Homo sapiens: one gene and its partners. The protein of the gene in region 1 purifies or fractionates together with the protein of each later gene. This does not show direct contact. Each region holds a gene or a part of one and is shown on either strand. Other genes may lie near its edges.

What was found.
Region 2: the proteins of RDH12 (region 1) and TKFC purify together in Homo sapiens (affinity purification with mass spectrometry; 3 studies listed by BioGRID and IntAct, with this or other methods). This does not show direct contact.
Region 3: the proteins of RDH12 (region 1) and ARPIN purify together in Homo sapiens (affinity purification with mass spectrometry; 3 studies listed by BioGRID and IntAct, with this or other methods). This does not show direct contact.

What each region holds. Positions count from the first base shown.
Region 1 is NC_000014.9:67,725,806-67,729,552, reverse strand, and holds part of RDH12 (retinol dehydrogenase 12), read right to left. Parts: intron 3,503-3,747; coding exon 3,398-3,502; intron 2,573-3,397; coding exon 2,363-2,572; intron 662-2,362; exon of another isoform or gene 363-661; coding exon 173-362; exon of another isoform or gene 1-172. UniProt on the Homo sapiens protein: Retinoids dehydrogenase/reductase with a clear preference for NADP. Displays high activity towards 9-cis, 11-cis and all-trans-retinal. Shows very weak activity towards 13-cis-retinol.
Region 2 is NC_000011.10:61,343,149-61,346,895, forward strand, and holds part of TKFC (triokinase/FMN cyclase), read left to right. Parts: intron 1-193; coding exon 194-310; intron 311-707; coding exon 708-827; intron 828-987; coding exon 988-1,125; intron 1,126-2,111; coding exon 2,112-2,218; intron 2,219-2,313; coding exon 2,314-2,417; intron 2,418-2,563; coding exon 2,564-2,597; intron 2,598-2,708; coding exon 2,709-2,798; intron 2,799-3,146; coding exon of another isoform or gene 3,147-3,176; exon of another isoform or gene 3,177-3,202; coding exon 3,203-3,355; 3' UTR 3,356-3,747.
Region 3 is NC_000015.10:89,899,296-89,903,042, reverse strand, and holds part of ARPIN (arpin), read left to right. Parts: intron 1-1,239; coding exon 1,240-1,248; 3' UTR 1,249-3,747. UniProt on the Homo sapiens protein: Regulates actin polymerization by inhibiting the actin-nucleating activity of the Arp2/3 complex; the function is competitive with nucleation promoting factors.

The DNA of each region.
Region 1 (3,747 bases):
AGTTTGTACTGTAAGTTTCCTTAACAAAGCAACGGCATTCTGTTTGCAGGCCCAACCCAAACCTGGATTGCATCATCAGGCACAAACTCAGCTTCTCAGGATGAACAGCCCAGCGAGTCCGGCACCTCCCATGCACACAGGTGGTGGAGAGAACCGCATTGCCTTCACACACCTGAAGTACTTGCCACTCAGGGGCTCCAGGCCCTCAGCCAGGGCGCAGTGCAGGCTGGTCTGCGCCCCCTCCCGTGCCGTCTTGACAAAGGGGGAGAAGAGCCGCCAGAGCAGGCAGAGCAGGGAGGAGTGCCGGACCAGCTCAGAGCGGACGACGCCTGGGTGCACTGCGTAGGTGGTGACCCCGGTGCCTGGGACAAAGAGGGCACAATTAGATCAGGGACACACTCTGAGCCCAGGAAAACAGCTTATCTCCTGCAGCAAAATACACAAGTGAGAAGGAGGGACTCAGGAAACATAACCCCAGGATTCAGCAGGTACCACTCCTGGCCAGGCGGAATTTGAACAGGAATGAATTGATCTTTCAGAAAGATCTATAGCCTTCTCAGCCTTCTATGTTCCAAAAGGAGTGCCTGGTTCGAGGTCCTTCTATTTCAATGTCGTTTTTATACTGTGGCTTTAGTACTACTAATAAACATGACAACATGTAGTGAGTAGTATCAATCATTGACAGTGGTATCTTTATCATTTCTAAAGGAGGAGTTTAGGGGTAGCGATCTGATTGGAAGGTGGTGGGTAGGACTTTATTTTGAGCTGCATTTGCCTGGCAAGCACATTTCATGAGGTATAGATTGAGGGATGGTGATGCAGATTGTGGGGGATTAACACCCCCCCCCCACAAGATATCCCTGGTGCGGTCACTATTTTTCAGTACCAATTATGTGCCAGGGCCATACAACATGCTTTAAATGTATTATTTCATTTAATTCTTAAAGAGGCTTGTAAAATAGAATATTATGTTATGATACCCATTTACAACAAAGAAAACTAAGTCACAGAAAGTTTAAGTAAATTGCCTAAGGTTATACCTGGCAGGGTGCAGGGCCAAGGTCTGAACTCTGATGTAAAGTTAAAAACATGGAATGGACTGTCTGCATTTGAATCCTGGCTCAGCTAGGAACCTTCCTTGGGCAAATTTCTTAATCTGTCAGTGCCTGTCTTTTCATATTTAGAGTGGGGGAAAATAATAGCACCCACCTCACAGGAATGTTGCAAGTATTAAATGAGTTAAGATGTGTAGTACATGGCACACATAAACCTCTCAATTATTATTGTAATAGTTATTGTTTATTTTTATGATTACCGTCTTCTTCTACTGTAGGCATTCTGGAAGTGAAGATCATTGTTCCCAAACTCTGGCTTATTCACTGTAACAAATGGACCCCTAGATCCGCAGATGTCAGAGCCAGCAGCTCACCCAGTGCTCCAGGAGAGCACAGAATCATTAAGGAATAAGAACCAGCCTGACCTGATTTTACAGCTGAGAAGATGAAGTCAGGGGAGGTTAAAGGGGCACATCCACATCCACATCCACATGCGGCTAGCATGTGGTAGAGCAAGAACTTGGACCCAGGGGTCTGAAATCCAGCCCTAACTCCCTGAGTCCAGGCAGTGGCAGCTCTGTAGCTCAGATCACCATGTGGACCTCAGCAAATGGCACCCAGAAGGAAGCACCCTAGGTTTAAAGCTGAGCACCCACATTCCGGTTCTGATGCCCTCACCTGCCATATACTCTTTAGCTGGCCATTTCCTTGGACCTCAGCTCTGCTCTATAAACTAGGAGTAATAATACCTGTTACCAAAGGCCTCTTCTGCCAGATCACCTGAGGTCAGGAGTTTGAGACCAACCTGGACAACATGGTGAAAGCTCGTCTCTTCTAAAAATACAAAATTAGCCAGGCGTGATATTGCGTGCTTGTAATCCCAACTACTCAAGAGGCTGATGCAGGAGAATCACTTGAACCCAGGAGGCAGAGGTCGCAGTGAGCCAAGATCGCACTACTGCACTCCAGCCTGGGCGACAAGAGCGAAACTCAAGTCTCAAAAAAAAAAAAACAAAAAAAACAAAAAGCCTCTGTCTGTTGCAAAAAGCTACTGTGAAAATCAAATGAGATAAGAGATAAGATGTGACACAAATACAAGGTAACTTTTTGAGGTTCTTAACCCCTATTTGATTTTAAGCTCCCTGGGGGCAAGCACTCTGTTTTTATTCCATTCATAATTTCATTCTCCTTAGTCCACAGAGATATTACTGACACGTGCATGTTTGACAGCCTGACTTCCCAAGTTGCTGTGGACCTCTAATTTGGTCTGAGGACCATTTTTGCTATTCCTCTTTCTCCAGACTTACCTTGGAGCCTCTTGGCCAGCTCACGAGTAAAAAGCACATTGGCCAGCTTGCTGTGGCAATAGGCAAAACCCCTGCTGTAGCGCTTCTCGCTCTGGAGGTCGTGGAAGGGAATCTTGCCAATGTGGTGAGCCACCGAGGACACATTAACCACCCGTGCAGGGGCAGACACCTTTAGCCGCTCCAGGAGCAGGTAGGTGAGGAGGAAGTGGCCTGTGAGGAGAGCCAGCAGGGAAGATTGAAAGTGGAATGACAGCCCAGGCTCAGCATGTGGGAGCCAAGAGGACTTCAGTGTTAGCTCACTATCTTCTGGGTGTGAACCAATTTTGATGCCATGAGTAACTCTAATGGTCAGTTTGGTCTGAGTTTGTGGATTCCTCAAAGCAAGAGCCAGAGCTAGACTACAAGTAAGGCAATCATACTTAATTATATTACTTTGTACCTCTGCCCTTGACCCACCTGCTGGCTTCCAACTCCCACTCTGGCCATGATCGCATAACTAGGGACCCAGGTACACTTGTGTATAGGCAGAAGGATAGAACAGTCAGGGAAGATAACATTTGCTTAGGATCAGAAAACATGCTCCATGCTCTCCTCCCTAAAGTCTTTGCCTTGAACGCTGAACCCCACCCTGCCTCGTACTCAAGTTCTCAAGGATTGCCTACCTCCGTGGACCAACCCATGGCTTGGTTGGCCATCATGTAGATGTGACCCCTCCAGCCAAGCCCAGATGCCTGCATAACCCCAGGTCTGGCCCTGCCTGGCAAGCCTTGTACTGCCACTGCCCCATCCAAGAATGACATTCTTCTCCCTGGTATTTCCTGAAATTTGGGGCTTCTTAATGGTATGGGTAGGAAGATCTCACTTTTTTAGACTGATCAGGAGAGGTACAGTGAACAACAAGCCAATGGGTCTAGTCTATTGGAATTCCTAGGCTCTATGAAGGCCCCTGGACATTCTCCACATTTACACAGTGTCATCTTCCTAAAGAAAAGATAGTGGGTGTACCTCATTTTTTAGTCACCCAAAGATACTTACCCAGGTGGTTGACTCCCAGGTGGGTTTCAAAGCCATCAGCTGTCTTGGAATATGGACACATCATTACTCCCGCATTGTTGATCAGAATATGGAGCTGCTTTTCCTCTATAGGGCACAACCAAAGAGATCCTATGGTTAGCAAGGAGTCCCCTAGCTGCCTGTAACAGACCTGCATAATTGCCCTTTCCCTTTGTTCATTAGTTGTCTTTGTTGGGGTAACATTTTGATAGGAGTCACTTGCTCTGCCCCTTCCTTTTAAAACAAGGTATTGCCTCAGCACTCAATAACTATCCTTCATTTGGACCTATCTCAGTGACATCCAATAAGCATTGTCACTGGGTTTCTAATGA
Region 2 (3,747 bases), on another chromosome or scaffold:
CTTCCCCGACGTAGGGGACACCTCCAGGGAACGTGGTCATTTGTGGGGTTATTGAGGGATGCCTGCCAGGAGGAAATCAGGACATCTCCCTCCCGACCTCAGAGCCCCAGCTTCCAAGGTCCTTGCTTTTCTGTTGTTTTCTTTCCCTGATGCCCATTTTTCCCTTTTGGACTGCCACACTCTGGTATTGCAGAGGGCCGCGGGGTGAAGATTGCCCGTGCCCTGGTGGGCACCTTCATGTCAGCACTGGAGATGCCTGGCATTTCTCTCACCCTCCTGCTGGTGGATGAGCCTCTCCTGAAACTGATAGGTGAGACTTGGAACCTGGGGTCACCCAAGCCAGGGCTCCTTGTAACTGGAAGGAGCCAGGGAGACTTGGAGACCCCGTCAGGGCTGACCGTGACAATCAGGGCTCTGGAGCCTGTGAAGAAGGCTCTTCCTGGGCTTCTCCAGCCTTCTCCAGCTCTCACTGGACTAGAAGGAGTTGGTATTAGGATCCTCCTCAGAGAGGCCTGACCCTTTCCCAGGGACCCTCTCTCCATACCCCTGTATACAGTAGGCACTCAGTCCATGCTTGTCGAGGTGGACTCCCTTCCTCCAGGGCTGCTGAGAAAGCCAGGCCACCAGGGTCAGGATGGGAGGGTCCAAGCCCTGCTGAATCCCTGGCTGGACAGCCGTGTCTAAGAGAGTTATCTTGCTGCCCTTAGATGCTGAAACCACTGCAGCAGCCTGGCCTAACGTGGCTGCAGTCTCCATTACTGGGCGGAAGCGGAGCCGGGTAGCCCCTGCCGAGCCCCAGGAGGCCCCTGATTCCACTGCTGCAGGAGGTACCAACCCCTGCCTTTGGGGAAGGGACAGGCTTCCCAAAGGATGCAGGAGTATACGGTGGGGCGGGTAGGGGCCCTGGCACCCACACCTCCCACCATAGTCAAGTGTGGTTGTGAGAAGGGCCTGGTGGGCCTGTTCTTCAGCATCCTCCCTTTCTAGGCTCAGCCTCGAAGCGGATGGCGCTGGTGCTGGAACGGGTGTGCAGCACTCTCCTGGGCCTGGAGGAACACCTGAATGCCCTGGACCGGGCTGCTGGTGACGGCGACTGTGGCACCACCCACAGCCGTGCGGCCAGAGGTTGGTGCCAGGGACTTTGCCAAGTGAGGTCATTCACAAAACCTTAGCCCCCCTTCCACTTGTTTCCCTGAAGGCAGGGACCTTCCTTTTTTTTTTTTTTTTTTTTTAAGAAGGAATCTCACTCTGTCGCTAGGCTGGAGTATGCAATGGTGTGATCTCGGCTCACTGCAGTCTCCGCCCCCCGGGTTCAAGTGATTTTCCTGCCTCAGCCTCCTGACTAGCTGAGATAACAGGCATGCGCCACCACGCCTGGCTAATTGTTGTGTTTTTAGTGGAGACGGGGTCTCGCCATGTTGGCCAGGCTGGTCTCTAACTCCCCACCTCAAGCCATCCGCTCGCCCTGGCCTCCCAAAGTGCTGAGATTACAGGCATGAGCCACCACACCCGGCCGACAGGGACCTTCTTAACACCACAAATGTATGAGGTTGTTATCTTAGAATTAAATGAAATCCTTCACAGTGAATAACTTACAACTCAAGGCGAACTTATTCTGTTGTCCTTATTTTTCTCAGTTTACCCAGACCAGTGAAAAGCTCTTAACTGTCCAGCATCATTCATTCGAGAAAAAGGTATTTGGTGCCTGCCGTGGGGCAGGCACTGCTCTCAGCTGTGGATACAGTAGTGAACAGAGCAGACAGAAATCACTGCCCTCATGGCTTATGTTCTAGGTGGAAGACAGTCAACCAGATAAATCAGTAAAACACAGAGGATGTTAGCACAAAGGGCTAAGGAGAAAAAAACCAAGCCAGGGAGCAGAGTACAGAGCGTCAAGTGGAGGGCTTCGGGGCAGGCCTCACCTCCCCAGGCCCCTTTCGGTTACGCAGCCCAGCCCCTCTCCAGACTGCACACTGGATGTGGAAAGGGATCTTGGGAAGCCTTCATTCCACTTCCCTGTCGGCCTTTTCCAGCCTTCATTGGTGCTGGCTGGAAGTCTGGCAGATGGAGGGAGGATCTCTGAATTCCTCCCCATCTCTCTCTGCCTGCAGCAATCCAGGAGTGGCTGAAGGAGGGCCCACCCCCTGCCAGCCCTGCCCAGCTGCTCTCCAAGTTGTCTGTCCTGCTCCTGGAGAAGATGGGAGGCTCATCTGGGGCGGTGGGTGCCTGGGGGCTGAAGGGCTGACAGGGAGGTGGCTGGGCTGGCTGGGGTCCAGGCCAGCACCACATGCTCAGCGTTGTCATCTTCCCCAGCTCTATGGCCTGTTCCTGACTGCGGCTGCACAGCCCCTGAAGGCCAAGACCAGCCTCCCAGCCTGGTCTGCTGCCATGGATGCCGGCCTGGAAGCCATGCAGAAGTGAGCCAGAGCCCTGTGCATCAGACCAGGGGTGGGCTGGGGGAGGTGTTTGGTGACATCTGCGCCCTGCCAGGCCCTAGCCCAACCCTCAGAGTGATTCCCTTGGTTCCCTATAGTGAGCCTCTTTCACTCTCTTTCCCTGCCAGGTATGGCAAGGCTGCTCCAGGGGACAGGACTATGGTATGTACTCAGGCTGTGGCCTCAGACCTTTCTCCTTTTGGCCCTGTAAGTCTAAAGAGCACCCTCGGTTGCAGGGCCCGTGCTCAGCCCCCTTTCCTTCACCTTGTCCAGCTGGATTCTCTGTGGGCAGCGGGGCAGGAGCTCCAAGCCTGGAAGAGCCCAGGAGCTGATCTGTTACAAGTCCTGACCAAAGCAGTCAAGGTGAGTGAGGCTGGGCCCAGCCACCTGGGGAGACAGGCTTCTAGCCAGCAGACTCCTGTCTCCATGTGACCCTGAGCAAGTTAATAACCTTCCTGGACCGCAGTTTCCTTCTCTGTACAATGGAGATGAGCACCTATCTCAGAAGGTGGTTATGTGGCTAAGGAAATATGTAGAGCCCCGCACACTGCCTGGGATGTGACAGGGCCTCAGTGAATGGTGACCCTTTTCCCTGCTGGAAGTAGATGAGAAGTGACTTTCCATTTGGTGACAGAGCAGAGGGTGCTGGCAGAGCCAGGGCAAGGGCGTGCAGGGCCAGGCTGCACGGCAGAGACGTTCTGCCCATGGCAGGAAGGAGGCGGCCTGGTGATCTGCCCTTGAACCTGCTCCCACACCCCATCCCCCAGAGTGCCGAAGCTGCAGCCGAGGCCACCAAGAATATGGAAGCTGGAGCCGGAAGAGCCAGTTATATCAGCTCAGCACGGCTGGAGCAGCCAGACCCCGGGGCGGTGGCAGCTGCTGCCATCCTCCGGGCCATCTTGGAGGTCTTGCAGAGCTAGGGTGTGTGACTGCCTCCCTTGGCCTCAGCTCCTCTCACTGCTGTGCTGAGGTGGCCTTTGTCACTTCCTTCTGCCTTCCAACCCTCACCTTCCCCCGGCCTGGCCCCATTGGCCCACCCTCTAAGTTGAGCAGGAAATCCTCCACCAAGCTTCCAGAACTACAGACAGCACCCAGAGTGAGCTGGAGTGGGTCCCCATGCCTCTCCAGCATGCCCTTTCCCTTTGCAGGAGGGTGGAGTCCCTGGGTCATGCCCTCCCCTGCCAGCTCTGGGCTTCAGAGATAAGGCATTTTCCTTGTGCAGCCTTTACCTGGCAATCCTAATTTGGTTTTAAGACTCCCTGTGAAATGCTTTCCGCACCTTAACCCCAGTGAGCGTGAAAAAGAAAGTTAA
Region 3 (3,747 bases), on another chromosome or scaffold:
AAGAATGACAACCTGGGACCTTTCTTGTAGGTGGCTCTGAACCTAACTATTCCCCAAAGATTCCCAAGTGGTAGGAAGGAGGGGGTGCAGAGGGATATTAATCATGGTCATTAAGTCTCAAAACATTTCTACTTCAAGTGAATACATTAACCATGCTGAGGCAGTTGAACAACTGAATGCGTAGTTTTTCCTCCTTTGGTTTGGGCTCCTTGCCTGAAGTGTCTGGAGAATGGCTGACCTGGTCCTTACTGGTTTTTCTTTTGATGAGAGTCAGTCCCCACGTTGATCCTCAGCCTATTCACAGTTGCTTTTCTTTTCATTTCTTTTCTCTTTTTTTGGGAGATGGAGTCTCATTCTGTTGCCCAGGCTGGAGTGCAGGGGCACGATCATGGCTCACTGCAGCCTCGAACTCCTGGGCTCAAATGATCCTCCCACCTCAGCCTCCCAAGTAGCTGGGACTATAGGCATGCATCACCACGCCTGGCTAATTTTTTTATTTTTTGTAGAGACGAGGTTTTGCCATGTTGCCCAGGTTCACAGTTGTTTTTCTGAAGTATATTTTACCCAAAGACTTGAATTGATGTCATAAGGCCCCAAAATGAACATTTATTATTTTATTTTATTTTATTTTTTTGAGACGGAGTTTCACTCTTATTGCCCAGGCTGGAGTGCAATGGCGCCATCTCAGGTCACTGCAACCTTTGCCTCCCGGGTTCAAGCAATTCTCCTGCCTCAGCCTCCCAAAGTGCTGGGATTACAGGCATGCGCCACCATGCCTGGCTAATTTTGTATTTTTAGTAGAGACGAGGTTTCTCCATGTTGGGCTGGTTGGTCTCGAATTCCCGACCTCGGGTGATCCACCTGCCTCAGGCTCCCAAAGTGCTGGGATTACGGGCTTGAGCCACCACACCTGGCCTCAAAATGAACATCTGAAGCAACGAAGTCACAGAAAAATGCACTATTTATCTAGGTAATGGAGATGATGTCTTTTGCCAGAGAAAGCAGGCGCACGCAGATGAGAGTGTCTGGATTCCTTTTTGTCTTCATAAAGCGAATCTTGGACTGAAAAACAGTCCAAGAGCTGTTGGAGCTGCCGGGCCAGCTCTAATGAGGCGCCCAGGCAAGCACTCATGGGCCCCACAGGTACCACGCAATTGAACCCTTGTTTGTCTGATAACTTGCAGTGACGTTTATGACATGTGCTGTCTCCACATCTCTTTACCCCTTGGATTTCTCTAGGATGACTGAGGGACGTGGCTGCCTCTGGGGGCACCAGCACCTTCTGTAGCATTGTGGAACATTTCTTCCATGAACTTCTACTCTGGAGCTGGAGAGAACAGTCTGCCAAGTCTTACCTGGTTCTTCCCCATAGCCACCTTGGAATACTCTTTGAACAAGCTCTGCTAAAACCAAACCCATGACCACTGTGTTGGTGGTGGGGCCTCATGCTGTGGCTCAGGGAGGGCCCCTCCCTGCATGTGAGTCTAGCCTTCCTAGACATTACATGATGACCCTTTAAAAAAAAATTAGAGATGGAGGTCTCACTATGTTGCCCAGGCTGATCTCAAACTCCTGGACTCAAGCGATCCACCCCCCTCCACCTCCCAAGGTGTTGGGATTACAGGCGTGAGCCACTGCACCCAGCCTCATGTTGACCCTGGCCCTGGATAGCAGCTTTGTTTGTAGAGGCAGGTGGTGGGAGAGACCCTAGGACAGCCTGAGAGTAACTGGACCTGGTATTGGTGCGGAGTGGGGAATATCCCTTGTCTAAATGCAGAGCAGCTGAGAGAAGTTAGCGGGGCTCTTCCTCCGTTCTCATTGTTTCCTGCTTTCCTTCCCCACCCACCCCTTCCTCAGCACTCTGTGTTGTAGCCTGTACTATCCTGCTTCAAGCCTCCGTGTCCCTTGTACCTTCCCCCTACCTTGAGTTGCCAGTTCTTTACTCCCTCAAATGTTCCCATGCCACCTCTGGGGTTTCTGTTATCTGACATCCCTGGCTGCTTTCCTGGTAGATGCCATTCCCAGAGAGGCCAACAGCGTTCCCAGGCGTGGCTGGCTGGTCCGCATCTCTCAGACTCACTCTGCCAGGCTACAGTTTTGAGAATACCTTTTTTGTTGTTGTTTTGTACCTGGAGAACTTTTTATGAATGAGTAAATCTTCAGAAAGGAATTCCTCCACCCTTACTGGGTTATTGTCAGGTGTAAACGGCCTTTCAGCTGAGCAATGTTCCTATGAGAAGGAAGCCATTTCTCTTGGCTCATGAACACTGCCTTTTGGGTAGTATACCCACACCCAGATCTGTGAAGAGACCTGGAATTGAAGTCTCCATGTCGTCAGGACTTGGTGGCATGTGGATCTTGCTTGACTTGGGAAAAGAGAGGGTGGTGGTGAACTAATAATTATGGAGTCCCCCTAATGTGTCGAACACAATGCTAGATGATTTCCATGATAATAATTACTCATACTTGTGCTAAGCACTTGCGATATCGTACTTCTCACAACAGTCCATGAGGTACTGATTATTATTCCCATTTTCTCATGAGACTAAAGCTCAGAGCTCTAGGATAGTATACAGTGGCAAGAGGAATTTACATCCAAGCACTCAGATTTCAAAGCCCACATTCTTAACTACCGGACTATTCATATTACAGAGCAGGAAAAGGGTCTCAGACAGGTTAAGCAACCTGCCCAGAGTCACACAGCTAATGAGTAGCAGAATCAGGATTCAAACCCAGAGCTGTCAAAAGCAAACCTTATGTTCCTTCCACTGTCCCCTGCTTCCTTGCCCTTCAGAAAGGTCTTGGAAACAGGGGCCAGAGGATGTGGTAGCCACTTCACTGGTGTTCTGTGTCTGAATGGGACTTTCTCACAGGCAGGCCATGCTGGGACCTCAGCCATGGGGGTGGCCAGGGAGGTGGTTGAGCAGAAGGATAGCTGGGGACACTGACTGGGGGTAGAGTCACCCAGTGTCTTTAGACATCCTGCTGTCTAAAGCACTGTGTCCAAAGGGTATGGCACACTTATATGGACAGGTCACCATTCCAAACAAGGAGGCCCAGTGTGTCAATAGGAGAGGTCCTAAAGCAACAAAAAGGGCGGGGTGTCTTGGATGGGCTTCAGGAAGGGAAAGACCATTGTGTCTGGAGCTCAGAGAATGGGGGCTGGTGTTTGAGATGAGGCTGGAGATTGGGCATGGCATCCTCACGCATGTTAAGGAATTGGGGACTTTATCCTTAACATCCTGGAAGCCAGTGATCCCATGGAGAGTGAGAAGATCTGATCTGTGTTTCAAAGGTCACTTGACTGCCGAGCAGCTGGAGGCGAGTTGCTCCTTTAGGAGACTGCTGCAGTTGCCTGGGTGAGAGGCTAGAGGGGTCTGGTCTATAGCAGTGGCAGGGGAGATGGAAAGAAGAGAATGATTTGAGGGGCATTCGGGGGGCAAAATCAACAGGACCTGGGGGGAGACGAAGGGATCAAGAATGATGCCCAGATTCTGGGTGAGTGGCAGTGCTGTGGTGCACAAGTAGTGATGTTATGTTTCCGGGTGACCTGCTGTTTAGCAGGAGCCCAGCCTGTGGCTAAGAAGTATAGAGAACTGAAACTAGCTCCCTAGGGATGGGAAAACCAAGTGGGCTGAGGATAAGAACAGGGCCCCAGGGCTGGGTGCAGTCGCTCACGCCTGTAATCTTAGCACTTTGGGAGGCCGAGGTGGGCGGATCACTTGAGGTCAGGAGTTCGAAACCAGC